Linked DNA regions of Homo sapiens. The protein of the gene in region 2 purifies or fractionates together with the protein of the main gene of each other region. This does not show direct contact. Each region holds a gene or a part of one and is shown on either strand. Other genes may lie near its edges.

Region 1 (3,811 bases), on a different chromosome or scaffold from region 2:
GAATCACATCTAAGATTTAGCCATCTTGGCCACTGACACAAAGTAATGGATCAGAAGCTGAGTCATGTTAAAATTTAAAAATGACATGCTACTTACTTCTATATGTTCTTTACAGTATTCCAACCCAATGTCACTAAGTATTTTTTTCACAGTTTTCCGGGCTTTTCTTAAACTGCCAAGATTGTTGACAGGAAGTTGGAACATAGTTTCTATTGGAAAAAAAAATTTAAGTCAAAGTCAAAACACGTACAACTTGTAATATTTACTAATTCCACTGATGATAGGATCATAAAACCTACCCATCTGACAAAAAAGGTGCATAGATATCCTCATCTAGTGTGTACACACACAGACACACACCTGCTTTCATGTGCATATGGCTTGATATATCCATCCATCCATCCTTCCTTCCTTTTCTTAAGACAGAGTCTTACTCTGTCGCGCAGGCTGGAGTGCAGTGCACTCATGGTTCATTGACTGCAGTGCACTCACGATTCACCATAGCCTCAACCTTCTGGGCTCAAGTGATCCTCTCACCTCAGCTTCTCAAGAGGAAGGGACTCCAGGAGTGCGCCACTATGCCCAACTAATTTTTAAAATTTTTTTGTAGAGACTAGGTCTCACTATGTTGCCAAGGCTGCTCACAAACTCCTGGACTCAAGCCATCCTCCTGCCTTGGCACCCCAAAGTGCTGGGATTATAGGCGTGAGCCACTGAGCCGAGCACATATCTACTATATTTTGAATACTTAAAGCAGGCAGGCAAAATAAGTACTCTCTGATTTTCCCAGTTTTTAACAGGACATTTTGACTATGAGTCTAATCTGGCATAATTCTGATAAGACTTAACAACAGTTCAGTAATGAACTTCAAGATGAAAATTAGAGAAATACTAGCAATCAATTATTTTTAAATCAAGTGTTAGTGCTTTTCTCATTTTGATGTTGAACATCTGAAAACAGAAAAATGCTTACCAGTTCATCATCATTACAGTTTTGAGTGCCAGGGTAAAGAGGTTTTTGTTGAATTGGAACTGTCCTGCCTACTGCTACGGTATTCTTTAAAACAAAAACAAAAACAAAAACAAAAACAAAAAAACCTTAAGTTTCTGTATACTCCCCAAACTAAATACAGTAATGATATGTGACTCGACCAATGCATGCCCCCACTCCACCCCTGCCTGCAACGTACCTGGGCAAAGGTACTCAAAAATGTTAACTGTTACAGACTTTAAGGAGGGTACTTTTGAAAAAAATGAAAAGCCTGTATGTGTCTAAGGGAACTCAAAAATTATTTTAATGACCTAATACATTAAATTAGAAATTCATATCAACTTTCCCAAGTTCCTTAAAACAGAAGTTTGTCTTTAATGAGAAAATAAAATCAGTAAAACCTGGGCAGCTGAGAATATGTATGGTTTCTAATGAGATCAGAAATGCTTCCCATAATATGGTAAAAATTTATCAATTTAATAATCCAAATCTAACACAATTTCGCAGGATATAAAGTAGTTCTAAAACCCAAAACAGCAAAAACAAAAGACAAAGCACCAGGAATTAAAATTTAATATATGCAAATCCAGTTTTCTAATTAACAAAGGCTGTTACTCTGTAATACCAATATCATCTGTAAATGGCAAGTCAACTAATCCAAATGTAATAAAATGCTGCCTCATTTATTATTCTAATCCAAAATCAACGTTAACTATAAAAAAATGGAAAATAAAAGGAGAAAGAGTGAAATCTACCAAAATCAAAGAGTAACCCCTAGAAATTTTGAAACTGGGTACGTTACTCTAACTTAGAAGTCTCAAAATATTCTATATGAAGTACCAAAGTCTAATTGGGGCCGAAAATGAAAAGTATTTCAAAAAAACCTTCTAGGCCTTATCATACTCAAGATAGAATTGCTGCTCACTATGAAGCAATGACTATGGTGTCCCCTGCTCTCTCTGCTATGCTAATAATCTGCATATTGTGAAGCCAACTACAGACTTAGAAGTCACTTCTGATATAAATTAAGACCAAATCAATTATTTTTTGTCCAAATTTTATTGCTAAATTGTTTTAAACCATCTTTTGTGGTGGCTTAAAACCAGCAAATTCTTTATCACTTGCTTAATTTAAAACAGTTAGTACACACTGGGCATGGTGCCTCACGCCTGTAATCCCAACACTTTAGGAGGCCGAGGAGGGCAGATCACGAGGTCAAGAGATCGAGACCAACCTGGCCAACATGGTGAAAACCCGACTCTACTAAAAATACAAAAAATTAGCTGGACGTAGTGGCACGTGCCTGTAATCCCAGCTACTCGGGAGGCTGAGGCAGGAGAATCGCTTGAACCCGGGAGGCAGAGGTTGCAGTGAGCCAAGATCGCACCACTGCACTCCAGCATGGCGAGAGCGAGATTCCATCTCAAAAACAGACAAACAAAAAACACATACAGTTACTACAAACCAGGTCTTTTAGAGAGAAGCACATGTTAGAAAAATATTTCAGAAATACAGAAAAGTGTCACAGGCTAATTCTGAAGAAACCAGGTATTAAAATGGATGCCCACAGATACCTAAGACTGGGAAGAGACATCTTGTTTCTCTGTTCATTTCATAAACTCTCTATGGGCCAAAATTCAGTTCTTTGGGAACTTCCTGAGTTAACTCTGCTTCACACTTCATAACAGATGTGTCCAGAAGCCAGCCATTAATGGTTTCCCTGCCTCCTGGATGAGTGGCTCAACAATCTCAGAAAAACAAAGACATAAAGATTTGGAAATGCAGCCACCACTGGGGTCATTAGTCTATAGAAAACATAAAAAAGAATCAAGCGGCAGCTTGGGGGAAAGAAAAACCCATTCTTCTAAGTGCCTACCCACAGCTTAAAAAGTCGGTTTAAGACATTAAGATGAAGCATCTCACTGCCTGGTAGGTATTTTTTTCTGAAAAAGTGAGTATGCCCATAAGGGAACTTAGTTGTAAGAAACTTGTAATTTATAAAAAGCGGTATTTCAGCCACAGAGTTGGTGTTGGGTTTACTTATCTATTTTGAATTTAAAAGGCTTATAAATAAAGCAGTGACACTGCTTACTGGGAAATGCTGTACCAAAAAATGTTATCTTGCTGTAGGCTTGGCAACTAGGAGAAATCTGTATTTTTTTTTTGAGACAGGGTTCCAGTTTTTTTTTTTTGTTTTTTTTTTTGAGACAGTCTCGCTCTGTCACCCAGGCTGGAGTGCAGTGTCACGATCTTGGCTCACTGCAAGCTCCGCCTCCCAGGTTCACACCATACTCCTGCCTCAGCCTCCTGAGTAGCTGGGACTACAGGCGCCACCACCATGCCCAGCTAATTTTTTGTATTTTTAGTAGAGATGGGGTTTCACCGTTTAGCCAGGATGGTCTTGATCTGACCTCGTGATCCGCCCATCTTGTGATCCGCCCATCTCAGCCTCCCAAAGTGCTGGGATTACAGCCACCGCGCCCGGCATTTTTTTTTTTTGAGACGGAGTTTTGCTCTTGTTGCCCAGGCTGGAGTGCAATGGCACAAATCTTGGCTCACTGCAACCTCTGCCTCCCAGGCTCAAGCAATTCTCCTTCCTCAACCTCCTGAGTAGCTGGGACTACAGGCGCGTACCACCACATCGTGCTAATTTTTGTATTTTTAATAGAGACAGGGCTTCACCATGTTGGCCAGGCTGGTCTCAAACTCCTGACCTCAGGTGATCCACCTGCCTCAGCCTCCCAAAGTGCTGGGATTACAGGCGTGCACCACCATGCCTGGCCAGGAATGTATGTTCATGTTAACTCACGTTAACGCCTG
Region 2 (4,259 bases):
AACAGTTCTCTCAAGTTGTTTTGATAACCAAGAATTTCTAAGAAGAAAGTGTGTTAGATGTGACATTGACGTATTCTAACTGGGACAGAAGGAAGGTCTATAAATGATCTTGCCATAAAGGTCAGGCCTCATCCTGCCACAACCGCTGTTAGCTGTTACGTGCCGCAGCAGAGCTCCCCCATAGTCTCAGCTGATACTGAAATTCATCCCACTCCCCTCTCACCCCCAGCCTGTATTCAGGCTGTTTGTTTAGAATTGCAGTGGCTAGAGGCCTTAGAAGCATCACTGCTTTCTTGGCTGTTTTGAAAAGCAGAAAGAGTACGTAAGAAGCAGCAAGCTGGAACCAAAATCCAGAGGTCGTGGCCCAGATGGGGCTTCTGCTATGCTTCACAGCAGCATGGTGTGGCAGAAAAGGCAGAAAGTCAGATTCACCTTCTGCTACTTAGTGCCTTAATCTTTGGACAGATGGCTCACTCTATTGCTTGACTATATTTAAAAGCATTTTGTTTACGAAACCAAAGTGAAACACACCTACTTTGGGAGTTTACAAGAGGAAGCACACATTGAGGGCTAGGTTAGGAAAGCTTTTCCTGAGATAATAGTTTCATTCTTTCCTGCGGGGCGAGGGGCCAAAGCTGAACTCCCTAACTATGACCCCCACCTCCCAACCTGTTCCCTGCAAAAAACAGAATCATTTCCTTCCAGGGATCTGGGACATCTTTTGGCTTCTGGTAGAAGCCGCTTTCCTTTCAGTCGGGAGGGCTCCAACTCAGCCAAGTTCTTTGGATGCCATCCGCGCGGTGTCCCATAACTTTCCTGGCCGGTGGGCACACTGCCTGCGTGAGTGTTTGTTCTCTGCATCGACCATTCCCTGCTCAGGCGTCGCCCTTCGTGCTGGGACTGCGGCCTGCTGAGCCCCAGGTAGGAGTCCACGCATCGCCTCTCTCTCCAGGTGCACCCGCACAGCTGGCGAACTTGGCTAAGGTCAGCGGGAGAGGAGGGGTGAGATGTGGTGCTAGTTTTAGGCACACTGTGCTCGTTATCAGATTGCCTAGGGGCCCGACTGAAGTATTCCTCCGCCCAGCGCCTCGGGCAAACGCGGGATCTCCCAGGGAAGCTCGGAGGGGGACAGGGAGCTGGTTCCCCTCTGCGACTCGCCCCTCTCTGGCTGGCCGAGTGTCTGGCGCCAACCTCGCTGGAGGAGGCTGTCGGGGGCGGGCCAGCCAGCGGGGCTGCCCTCCTCGCAGTGACGTCCCAGGGGGCGGAGGGGCGACCGACTGACTCCGCGCCCTCCCCCCCGCCTCCCGTGCGGTCCGTCGGTGGCCTAGAGATGCTGCTGCCGCGGTTGCAGTTGTCGCGCACGCCTCTGCCCGCCAGCCCGCTCCACCGCCGTAGCGCCCGAGTGTCGGGGGGCGCACCCGAGTCGGGCCATGAGGCCGGGAACCGCGCTACAGGCCGTGCTGCTGGCCGTGCTGCTGGTGGGGCTGCGGGCCGCGACGGGTCGCCTGCTGAGTGGTGAGTGCGCGCGCTGGGGCGGGGGCTGGTGCCGGGGTGGGCTCACTGCACCCCAGCTGCTGCTGACCCTCTTCTGGGTCGCCACGTATGGGACTAGAAGGCCGTCCCATGCCCCACTCCCAGACGCAGCCCTTCGGAGTCTCTTGCGTTCTGGGGGCAGTCGCACGGCGTCTGAGACCCACGCCAGTTCCCGGAGCTGCGCAGTTCCCTGCGCGTCCTGGAACGCTCGAAGCCCGTTCCCAGTCCAGAGTTATGGGGGTGGGTTGGAGAATGTAGGAGAGGTGGGGCAGTGGGCAAACCTGCCCCAGTGGGTGCCCCTTCGGCCCGCTCCTTTACACGCATCGAATCAGTCCTTGGGACCACCCCCGCGGGGCAGGCTTGCCAGCTGGCCCCCGCCTACCGCCCGCTCCGGGAGGCGGCCGCAGAGACAGCGGGGTAGGGATGCTGGATCCCCGGTGCCGTGGGAACCCTGCCTGTTACTCCTCGTCTCTTCTGCGGGGTTGGATGGCTGGGTCGAGCGCCCGGTATGAGAGCGCTTAGAGATCGGGAAAGAACTCCAGTTAGTGTGGGACGAGCCCCACCTGACTCCGGGGAATGACTCTCTGCTTCCTTCCTCCTGTTGTGTCACTGCAGCCTCGGATTTGGACCTCAGAGGAGGTAAAGTGCTCTGGCTTCTGGCTTCTTTCAGTTGTTCTGCATGTCGGGGGGAGAACATCCGTGCCCTTTTCTCAGATCCTTTTTGCGGGTGCCAACAGCTTGACCAAACGGGACAGAGGAGACTGGGAACCTCCTCTACTCTGGCATCCTGGCTTGCGAAACTAATTTAAAGAATGTAAAGTTGGTTTCAGGATGGGGGCGGGGCGGCAAAAGAGGTGGGAAGCTGAATTGAGCTGCTTGGGTTAGGGCTGCGTGGGCTCTGTCCTTGGTCGCGGGGAACAGAAGGCCCTCCCACCCTTCGCCTTCCTGCAAATGAGAAGAGAAGGACACTTCCTGAAGGCAGGAGAACCAGATAGGCCCGCGGGCCTCCTTCCAGCTCTGACGGTCTCTGGCACTCACCCGCAGACTTCGGATGTGTGGCCAGGCTGGACCATACAGGAAACTCGCTTAAGGTGTTATGTTTCCCTTGACAATCCAACATGGAAAGTGGGGGTTGTCAGGAAATTCAACTCCAGCTTATGTTATGCCGGTGGCCAGGTTGGATAAGTTCCTGGGGGCTCATTTGCCCCTCCTCTGCTGCCCAATTTGGAGCCAGCTTTGAGGAATCGCAAAAGCGTGGCTGGCCCAGCCCCCTTCCCGGGGGTATCCCTGCCTCAGCCTCTCTGAATACCTTCTTGCAAGCAGGTCTGGCTTTTGAACCCTCCTAATGTGCTGCTGGACCAGTCTAATTAGAGTTTCTCTATTATCAGCAATAGCCAAATAATGACAGGAAAAGGGAGAAGATGTGGAACTCTTATAACTTGTTGCTCATTGAGAATTCCTTTATGAAAGTGATGAGAGAAGAAATAGAAAATGAAGACTCACTGGAGCTTTCTGGATAATCTGTATGTGCTCTTTCTCATTTAGCACTAATCATATAGTTCTATCTGTCTGTGGCCCCTTGCCCTATATGCTGGCCAGTGTTGGGAATTAATGAATGCTATCTGGCTCCCTGCGCAGCTGTAAAACAAGTTGGGAAAACAAGAACATTCCAGAAGTTCTGGGAGGAGGTTCCCAAACCAAAATATTTTACCCCCGGCACTGTGGCAGCAGTTCGCACCCACAGCCCACAATTTGGCTTTCTCTTTGCAGGGGGACTACTCCCCGTGTTGATACGTGGTTTTCACTTTGAACATTTGAATCCGGAAACATATGCTGTGTGCTCCTGTGGGTTAGGAAGTAGCTTTTGTTCCTGTATTCCCAGCACCTCGCACAGTGCCAGGCACAAAGTGTACACTCAATAAATGTTGATTGAATGAAAGGAGTGATGAGGCTAGTGTCTCCATTGCAGCAAGGCTTCAGTCACACAGACGCAAGCTAGAGCAGTGTGTACTGTGAGCGATTTGTTATTGGCTCCTCAGTAAAATCCCATCTGTTTGTCTGAGATGATCTTCAGCCCTTCAGGGGACAGACTGATAAGACACATTACATAGGCTCCCAGTAAAACATGAGCCTGGGGTGCAGCGGGGAGCTAGCAATTTAGTTCACTGGTACCAGCATGATTTTGTAATTAGATCTGGGCTCTAACTCCGGTGATGCTGATGATCACTGTGTGATCTTGGCCAAATTACTTAACTTCCCTGAGCTCCAGTTTTCTCATTTGTAAAATAAGCCATAAACAGTATCTGCATCAGGGGACTATTATGAGGGTTACATGAGATAAAGTATGTAAGTAAATGTTAAGCCCTTACCATAGTTTATGGCACATAGTAGGAGTTCAGTAAACCTTAACTGTTGTCTTTAGGTCAGAGGGCTGACTGTCAGTAGCAGAAAACCCCGTGGATCTGATGCTTTTAGCTTCTGCTTACACCAGAGACTGGGCAAATTCTCAGTCCTGCTGCACAGGCAGAGGGTTCCAGAATAGAGGAGCCCATGCCTGACTTCAGGAAGCCTCTCTTACCTTAAAGAACCACCAGAGACACCCCCTTTAAGCCACATTATCCCCTGAGACTCCCTAATGAAAGTGTTATTTGTGTGCCTTTCAGTGAAACCATAAATCTTCATCTACTTCTCTTCTAAAGGACAGTCAAAATAAAACATTTGCTTTT

What was found.
Region 1: the proteins of LAYN (region 2) and ADNP purify together in Homo sapiens (affinity purification with western blotting, with the first as the bait; one study listed by BioGRID). This does not show direct contact.

What each region holds. Positions count from the first base shown.
Region 1 is NC_000020.11:50,903,793-50,907,603, forward strand, and holds part of ADNP (activity-dependent neuroprotector homeobox protein), read right to left. Parts: intron 1,058-3,811; 5' UTR 974-1,057; intron 210-973; coding exon of another isoform or gene 205-209; coding exon 97-204; intron 1-96.
Region 2 is NC_000011.10:111,539,414-111,543,672, forward strand, and holds the start of LAYN (layilin isoform 2 precursor), read left to right. Parts: upstream 1-1,306; 5' UTR 1,307-1,430; coding exon 1,431-1,515; intron 1,516-1,920; exon of another isoform or gene 1,921-2,148; coding exon of another isoform or gene 2,149-2,172; intron 2,173-4,259. UniProt on the Homo sapiens protein: Receptor for hyaluronate.